Homo sapiens: one gene and its partner. The protein of the gene in region 2 purifies or fractionates together with the protein of the main gene of each other region. This does not show direct contact. Each region holds a gene or a part of one and is shown on either strand. Other genes may lie near its edges.

Evidence for each region.
Region 1: the proteins of PCDHGB1 (region 2) and SPECC1 purify together in Homo sapiens (co-immunoprecipitation; 3 studies listed by BioGRID and IntAct, with this or other methods). This does not show direct contact.

What each region holds. Positions count from the first base shown.
Region 1 is NC_000017.11:20,007,815-20,011,632, forward strand, and holds the start of SPECC1 (cytospin-B), read left to right. Parts: upstream 1-1,544; 5' UTR 1,545-1,610; intron 1,611-2,348; exon of another isoform or gene 2,349-2,403; intron 2,404-2,706; exon of another isoform or gene 2,707-2,838; intron 2,839-3,818.
Region 2 is NC_000005.10:141,493,099-141,496,698, forward strand, and holds part of PCDHGB1 (protocadherin gamma-B1 isoform 1 precursor), read left to right. Parts: intron 1-1,708; coding exon 1,709-1,767; intron 1,768-3,600. Other genes in the region: PCDHGA1 (protocadherin gamma-A1 isoform 1 precursor), read left to right, coding at 1,709-1,767; PCDHGA2 (protocadherin gamma-A2 isoform 1 precursor), read left to right, coding at 1,709-1,767; PCDHGA3 (protocadherin gamma-A3 isoform 1 precursor), read left to right, coding at 1,709-1,767; PCDHGA4 (protocadherin gamma-A4 isoform 1 precursor), read left to right, coding at 1,709-1,767; PCDHGB2 (protocadherin gamma-B2 isoform 1 precursor), read left to right, coding at 1,709-1,767; PCDHGA5 (protocadherin gamma-A5 isoform 1 precursor), read left to right, coding at 1,709-1,767; PCDHGB3 (protocadherin gamma-B3 isoform 1 precursor), read left to right, coding at 1,709-1,767; PCDHGA6 (protocadherin gamma-A6 isoform 1 precursor), read left to right, coding at 1,709-1,767; PCDHGA7 (protocadherin gamma-A7 isoform 1 precursor), read left to right, coding at 1,709-1,767; PCDHGB4 (protocadherin gamma-B4 isoform 1 precursor), read left to right, coding at 1,709-1,767; and 11 more. UniProt on the Homo sapiens protein: Potential calcium-dependent cell-adhesion protein. May be involved in the establishment and maintenance of specific neuronal connections in the brain.

The DNA.
Region 1 (3,818 bases), on a different chromosome or scaffold from region 2:
TGGGGGGGTCTCACTGTGTTTCCTAGACTGGTCTCGAACTTCTGGCCTCAAGCACTCCTCCTGCCTCGGTTCCAAATTTTTTATGATGTGAGCATAACATTGATTCTGAAACCAAACAACATTAGACATTCAAAAAGAAAATTATTGCCCATCTCATTTTTGCATATCAATGCAAAGCCTGTAAATAAAATATTAGCAAACAGAATCAAGCAGTATATTTAAAAAAAAAAGACAAGTTTATTGCAGGGATAAACTGGGTTTTTATTAGGAATTTATTATAACTAGGACTCATTACTTCAATATGAGGAAATCAGCTGTCACCCGGTTTGCTCGTCCTTACAGACATCTCCCTCCTCTTCCTCTCTTCCTTTCCAGTGAAAATGTCTTCAAGTTTCCTCTACCAAACCAAAACTTCACCCCACTTCTTTTATTCTTTCCTCCTCTCTTCTCAGAACAAAGGGGTTGTTGCTGACCAGCCCAGGGTTTCTTATTTGGGGCCGGATCATTCTTCCTTGTGGGGCAGTCCTGTCCTTCAGGTAGGATGTTGAGGAGCACCCTCGTGTCTACCCACTTAGGCAACAGTAGCAACTCCCGCATCATGACAACCAAAAATGTCTCCAGACCTCCCCAAATGTACGCGGGGCGGCGAGGAGGGGCAACACCGGCCCTGGTCGAGAACCGCTAGCCTAGGCTCGCCCCTCTACCTGGGCGCCACAACTTGCCAGGGTTGGTTATTCTCCCTGGATCCTTTCCTTCCTCCTCATTTGAGCTTCACGCCCTCAAGTATGACCAAAGGTTCTGTCATTCCACTCCTGCAGTTTTCATTAAGGTCTTAGGCCACTTCCATGTCAAGAAACACAGTGGCTCTTTCTAACCCCTGGCCATGAGGCACCCCTGGAGGAGGAGCCGTGAGGGTAGGGAAGATGCTGAGGGGGATGTTGACCTTGCCGACTTCCAGGCGCCTCCGCTGCATCCCGGAGGAGGCGTTGGGCGGTGAGGGTGCAGCGGGGGGGCGGGCCCCGCAGGATGAGGTGTCCGTGTGCGGCTAGCGCCACAGGCAAGACCGGGCTCCTTGCGGGGCGGAGGTGAGGCCGTGAGCATAGCTCTCAAACTGGAGGGCGCCTCAGAATCACTTGACGGGCTTGCGAGAATGTGGACTGCTGGGCCCCACCTTCATGGTTTTAGTGCAGGAAAAACCGAATAGGCTGGGTGGGACGGAGAATCTGCATTTTCTCAAGTTCCCAGATGAGGCTGAAGCTGCTGGTCCGGGCACCACCCTTAGAAAACCTCCAGTGTAGAGTGCGGAAATGGGGTCCACATCTGGCTTGGGACGCCCAAACATCGATTATGTGCGACCAGAGGATGAGCAGATAGGGAGATGAGACACTGAGAGCTGGGAGAGAGGGGGCCCCCGGCCGCCGGCTGAAGGAGGACGGCGCAGGCGGCGGTCCGGGTACTACATCTCCCAGCGAGCCCCGCGCGGCTCGCGCTCGCCCCCTGGCGGCGATGGCTGGAGGCGCCGGCGGAGCGCGGGTCCCTCTCCTGAGCATCAGTGAGCGCCCGGAGCCGTGGCCGCTGGGGGTTGCGGCGGCGCTGAGCCAGCGGGGCCGGTGAGTACTAGCCGCGCCGCCAGCCCGCCCGCCGGCCGGCTCTTTGCGCCTCAGCCGCGTGGTCTGAAGGGATGGGCGGGCGAGCGCGGGGGTCCGGCAGTCCGTCGTGGGGGCACGGGACTGCCTTTCTGGGAAGGCGTGCTGCGTCTTCGCCGCGGGGGCCCCGGTCCCCTCGTCGCGTGTCCTGTCCCCAGCCCAGGAGGGACGTCCTGGCCTGTCCTGCCCGGCCCGGAGCGGTGGGACCGGTGCCGCAGGTGGCAGCGGCAGGTGGCCGCCTCCTCCCCTCCGGGCCCGAGGGTTGTCGCAGGGACCCGGGACTGAGAGCCAGGTGGCTCCCGACAGCTGCGGCCCTGGAGGCGACCCCAGCCCTCGCCGCAGTGGGACAGGTGCGCGGGCACGCCCGGCCCCGGCTCCTGGGTCTCGGGAGCCTCCCGCACCCTCCCTGTTGTGCCTTGGGGGTGCTGCGTGGTGCAGAGGACCGAGAAGCCCTTCGCCCTCGGCGTCCGCCGCGCTCCCGCCCCTTCCTGGCCGGGGTGACAGGGGAAGGGCTAGGGCTGCGCATCCCGGGTCAGCTGGGGCGCCGCGGCGCAGTGCACCTGGAAGGCCCGGGGGCAGCGCGCGGTGCCCGTGGGTTTCCCGGTGGTGCGGACCTGCGGGCGTGCGGAAGTAACGACCTCCTTCCCCAGTGCCCATGCAAGGAAATTAGTGTTATGTGCTTGCTTTTTTTTTTTTTTTTTCCTAAGGAAGTTTGACTCTGAATATCTTATTTTGCTGGAGCTCCATTTGCCAGCACGTAAGTTTATGTAATAAGCGGCATACAGTTCGGAAAAAAATTTTCCTGTGAAAGTGCTCTTCCTTGCCCTCTGCAGGAAGAATTACGCCGAGCTGGTTGGCAGGCTTATCCACCAGCAACTGTAGGAGCTGCAGGCAGCAGATAAAGTGTTTTTTGAGTAAGGGCACAAGTCAGCCCTTCAGGACAATTTTTGTTTTTGGAAGATTCTGTTATCCAGTTCCAAACACCGTGTTATTTCAGTGTTGAAGATGGGGGAGGAGGGAGGAGCACAGGCTTGTCAATCCTAATACCTCAACAGAAATTAGCTTTGCAGGATTAACTCTCCAAGCAAGCGAGTTGAATTTGGTAGCCCAAACTACAGCTGAAGCTGAGCCTCCATACTAAAGCCTGTCTCAGTTTTAATAGTTTTTCGCTTGATTCGTTTGCCTCTTCCAAGTAGGTGATCTTATTGTCTGTTAAACAACAGATGTCTCTCATGTTTTTACTTTTTTCCTTGTCTTCCATAGATTACTCTCGCTGCAGTGTTGACTATTGAGGTTAAATAGGAATCTTTGTCTTGGGCTTGGTTTTAGGGAGCATTCCCTCTGTATCTTCACCGAGTGTATTCTATCACATTAAGTACATTTCTGTTTATGCCTAATTACTAAGAGTTTAAAAAGTCAAGGGTGGGTGTTGGGTTTTTTGCCCAAATGCTTTTGTGTAGCATGCATTGATATGATCATGTAGATTTTCGTCTTAAAATTGTTAACATAAGTGGTGGTCACATTGCTAGATTTTCTTTCTCTAAAACCCTGGGCTAATTTAAAATGCACTTTTGGATTGTTCACATCAATAAGCTAGCATCTTATTTAGGGTTTTGGTATCTGAGTTTGGCATATAGTTTACCCCATTTTTATCTGTGTTCATAACAAGGATCAGGCTGTCCTCTCTGATTAAATTGGGAAACTTTCCATCATTTTCTATGCTCTGGAATAGAAGAATTATCTGTTCCCTCAAGTTTGGCAGAACTTGACTGCAGACTGCCTGGGCTGCTGCTGGTGTTGTTTAGGCAGTTAATATCAGTATTTAATTACCTTTTCATTTTTTTCATGATCATTTATTTTTCTCAGTTTTTCTGTTTCTTCAAAGTAAATTTAATATTTTCTGTTTTCCTAGAAAATCATTAACATTATTGAAATTTAATATATGCTAGCATAATGTTGTATATAGTATTCTGGTGTAAGAAAACAGACTCTTACATATCTGTATGTATCTGTATGTTCTCTTTCTGATACAGTACTTTTTTTGGTACCTTTTCTCTTTTTTTTTGATCAGACTTGCTTAATGATTATTTTATTAATCCTTTCAAAGAACCAGCTTTTATTAACCAGGATTTATTGATTAATTCTATTGATTTTTTATTTTTCTATGACATT
Region 2 (3,600 bases):
ATCAATGCCTAACTCTGCTCCTAGGACTGTATTTTGAAACACCCCCAGGTGATTTTGATAGCTGATTGAGAGAAACTTACTATATAACTCCTTTGAGAACCTCATCTCATTTGCTCTTCCCACCATTGCTGTTGGCTAGGTACTAACATGCCTCTCTTATAACAGCTTCACAGAGGTCAAGTGACTTGCTCAAGTTCACAGAGCAAGTAAGAGAGATTCTAACCCCTGTCTAACTCCAGAATGTGTGCTTTTAATTTCTTGGCACTTGGAACTTTAAAAGCTTGAGGACAGGAGAGGGGAGTTGCCTCTGCTGGGATTTTGCTTCTGCTGGGATGGGGCAAGGGTGGGGTTCCTTCCCTTTTAGGACCTTACATGTGGGGAAAGTCTTCTGTGGCTCCTCATTTCTGAGCAGTCCCCGCAGCGCAAACTTGGCCAGTTATCCTTTTGGAGATTGAGTTCCCCCAGCTCCGTTTCCTCCTATCACAATCACTGCATTTCCATGTAGATTCTGCTGTGTCTAAGAATACAGTGGCTGAGGGCTGGCCATCCCTGTGCCCTTCTCCATGGCAGCCCCAGAATGGTGCTGGTGACTCCCGATACACCTGGAATGCTAGGTTTCTGGGTTCTGCTCATATCACTGCCACCTGTGAGCCTTGAGTGAGCCACTGGCAGTTCCGGAGCTTCCTTCTCCCTGGAGTAATCTGAGATACTCACACTCTCTGCTTCTGGGAGCAAGTATGAGTATTAATTACCAGCCCACCCCAGAACCAGTGAGGAGGTGGCTCTAGGAGTGCTCCATGAGAGTGTGTGATGGGATAACACACCCCCTGGAAAGACCAGAAGGGACTCAGGAATGAAGTGGCTGGCCAGAGCCCCACACCTTCAGCTAGGTGGGAGATGGCTACACATCAGCCCCTTGGGAGCCCTGGAGACTTAGTTGGCCCTGCTTGGAGGCTGTGGGAGCTGGATCCCTCCCCGCTGCATCCCTTCCATTTTTCTCCGTCTCAGACAGAGCAGCCTTGTTCTCTTCTCCTTAGTCACAGACCATTGTCTGGCACGGAGTTCTAGGGGTGAGAAGTGTCCCGGGACTTGGATGCCCCGCAAAGGCCCAATCTGGCATGACTCCTAAATTAATAATGTATTTAGCTGTGGGAAGAGATTCTTGCAAGCCAAGGGCCCAGAGAAGATGTCCCTGTGAATGTGTCACTGCACAACCTGGCACCAAAAGGGTTACCAAGAACAGCAGCCATCTTGCTGCAGAGGATGCTTTGTTCCCAGCTGAGGAGTTGAATAAATTCATTCTAGGGCTGGTAGAATTCTCATTGAAAAGCCTCCTTTGCCACTTTAGGGGGCTTTGTCTGCACCTCTTCCCCCAGTTCCACAGAAGATGCCTTCAGTCCTTGAATTTTGGCTCAGGAGTTCTGACTCTGGGGGCAGGGAGGAAGGGGCCATTTCTTTAGGAAAGGAGTCTCAGCTTGCTCACTGTGGTCAGATGAAATGTGATTTATCTCTTGGTTTCTGGTACCTCAGACCTCTGAGACCTGAGGTGTATTTTGTCTTTGGAGATGAGTCCACCCCTGCCCCCTCTTAGTCCGTTTTCTTCTCTGTGCCCACTCCCCTCCTTCTCTCCCGGCCCATCCCTAGGGGCTCGGGTGACATTCTAACTTCTCACGGGTACTCAGCCCCTTTCCCTCTGTTTTCTCCACAGCAAGCCCCGCCCAACACGGACTGGCGTTTCTCTCAGGCCCAGAGACCCGGCACCAGCGGGTAGGTGACTGATTCTCCAGCCCACCCTCTTCTCTGCGGCATTTTCTCAGGGATGACGTGGGAGGAGATGGGGGAGGGCCCAGCATTTGCTACAGATGGCTTCTCCCTCAGTTTGAGATCCCAGGGAGGTCTTGGTGTGCGGGGGGCTGGCACACAGACCCCGGAAGGAAGAGGCGACTGCCCTGACTGTTCAGGAAGCTCAATTCACATGCTTGCCCCTTCCCTCCTCGCCACGACCGGCACCTTTTCCTATCCCCTGAGGGCACTGTGGAACCAAAGGATGGTCTTAAGCTGGTCTCTGGGTGAAAGCGAGGCTTTCTATGCCCATGTACTGCCTAACCCCCTCCCCTGAGTTGAGCTGGGCTCCATTATGACCTGGGGCTCAGGCAGAAAAGCATTTGACCGGAGGAGGCGGTCCGCACTCAGCGCCTCCTCCAGAGCCTCCAGAGCCGAGGCTGACTGCAGCCTGGGGAGAGTGGAGGCAGCACAGCTGGAGGTGGAACTGAGGAAGGACTGGGCGGGGCATGGAGCAGGCCCCCTTCTCCGGCCCCTCCTCCCACTGTCCTCTGCCCCTACTTGTCCTGCTCTCTGTCTGTGGGGTCTCCGTGTCTCTGCCCCTTTTTCTTGAGTTTCCGTCTTTGCCACTTTCTCTTACCTCTCAGTCCTTCCCTCAGTCTCTATCTCGCTTTGCAATCTCTGCCTCTCCCTCTCTTCTCCATCTCTGTCTTAGCTTCCGTCTTGATTGCTGCACCTCAGCCTCAGTCCCTTTCATTTGTCTACTTGCATTGATCTGTGCCGCCCACTGTGCCTGCCATGGCATAAGTGCTCAATAAATGTGGAGTGAGTAACTACACGGGACCCTTAGTCTCTTTCTCCTTCTCTATCTCTGCCTCCCTGTCCTTGTCCTGGACCTCTTTTCTGTTTCTCCTTTCACCGTTTCCTAGCGCCTTGTGTTCTTCTATCCCCAGCCTCTATGTTTCTCTGTCTCTCACTATTTCTGCTTTCCTCTCTGTTCTTTGTCTCTCTTTGTCTCTGTCTCTGTATATCTTTCTTTGTCTCTGTCTCTGGTCTCTGTGCCTGTTGTCTTTTTCTGCCTCTTTCTCTGTTACTCTTTCTTTATCTCTCTTTTTCTTTTATCTTGTCTTTTTTCTCTGAGCCTCTGTCTCTGTCTCTCATTTTTTTGTGCTTGTGGGCAAGCCAGCACACACAACCCCCCACCCACCACCCACCAACACCCCGCTCTCTTCCTTCCCTGCCCCTCACACACTGAGCCTTTGATCGCAGCTCTCCACCAGACACCCTCCCATCCAAGCAGCCCCAGCTGCTCATTTCAATCTGGTATGAATTCCTGCTGAGACAGGAACCCCCTGCGGGCTGAAGGGGAGGGAAACTTCAGCAGAAAGACCTTCAGTTGGTCTGAGCAGAGTGGGATAGGCTCTGCGCCAGGCCTCCCAGTTAGAAGTCAGGAGCCTGGAGGAGTCTCAGAGCCCAGGGAGAGAAGCAGGAGCTTGGGCCACCTTACCCTACCTCCTCAATGGTTGAGTACTTGCTGTCCACATTTGCCAAGTTGCTACAGATGCTGAGCTTCCAAGAGTTATCTTTCCCCCATCCTGCAACCAACCAAACCCTTGTTGCCACAAGGACCCAGGAGCCCTTGGTGTATGGCAGAGATTCCAGCTTCTGGGCATGCACAGTCCTGTCACCCATTTTAGGAACGCAAAGCGCTTCTTAGAAGGCCCCTAAAAAGCAGCAGATCAAAAGGCTTGGGCTGCCCTTGCCCTTCCTTTGACCCCAGCTGTTGTCCTTCTCCCTGCTGGCCTTGCCAACCTTCTC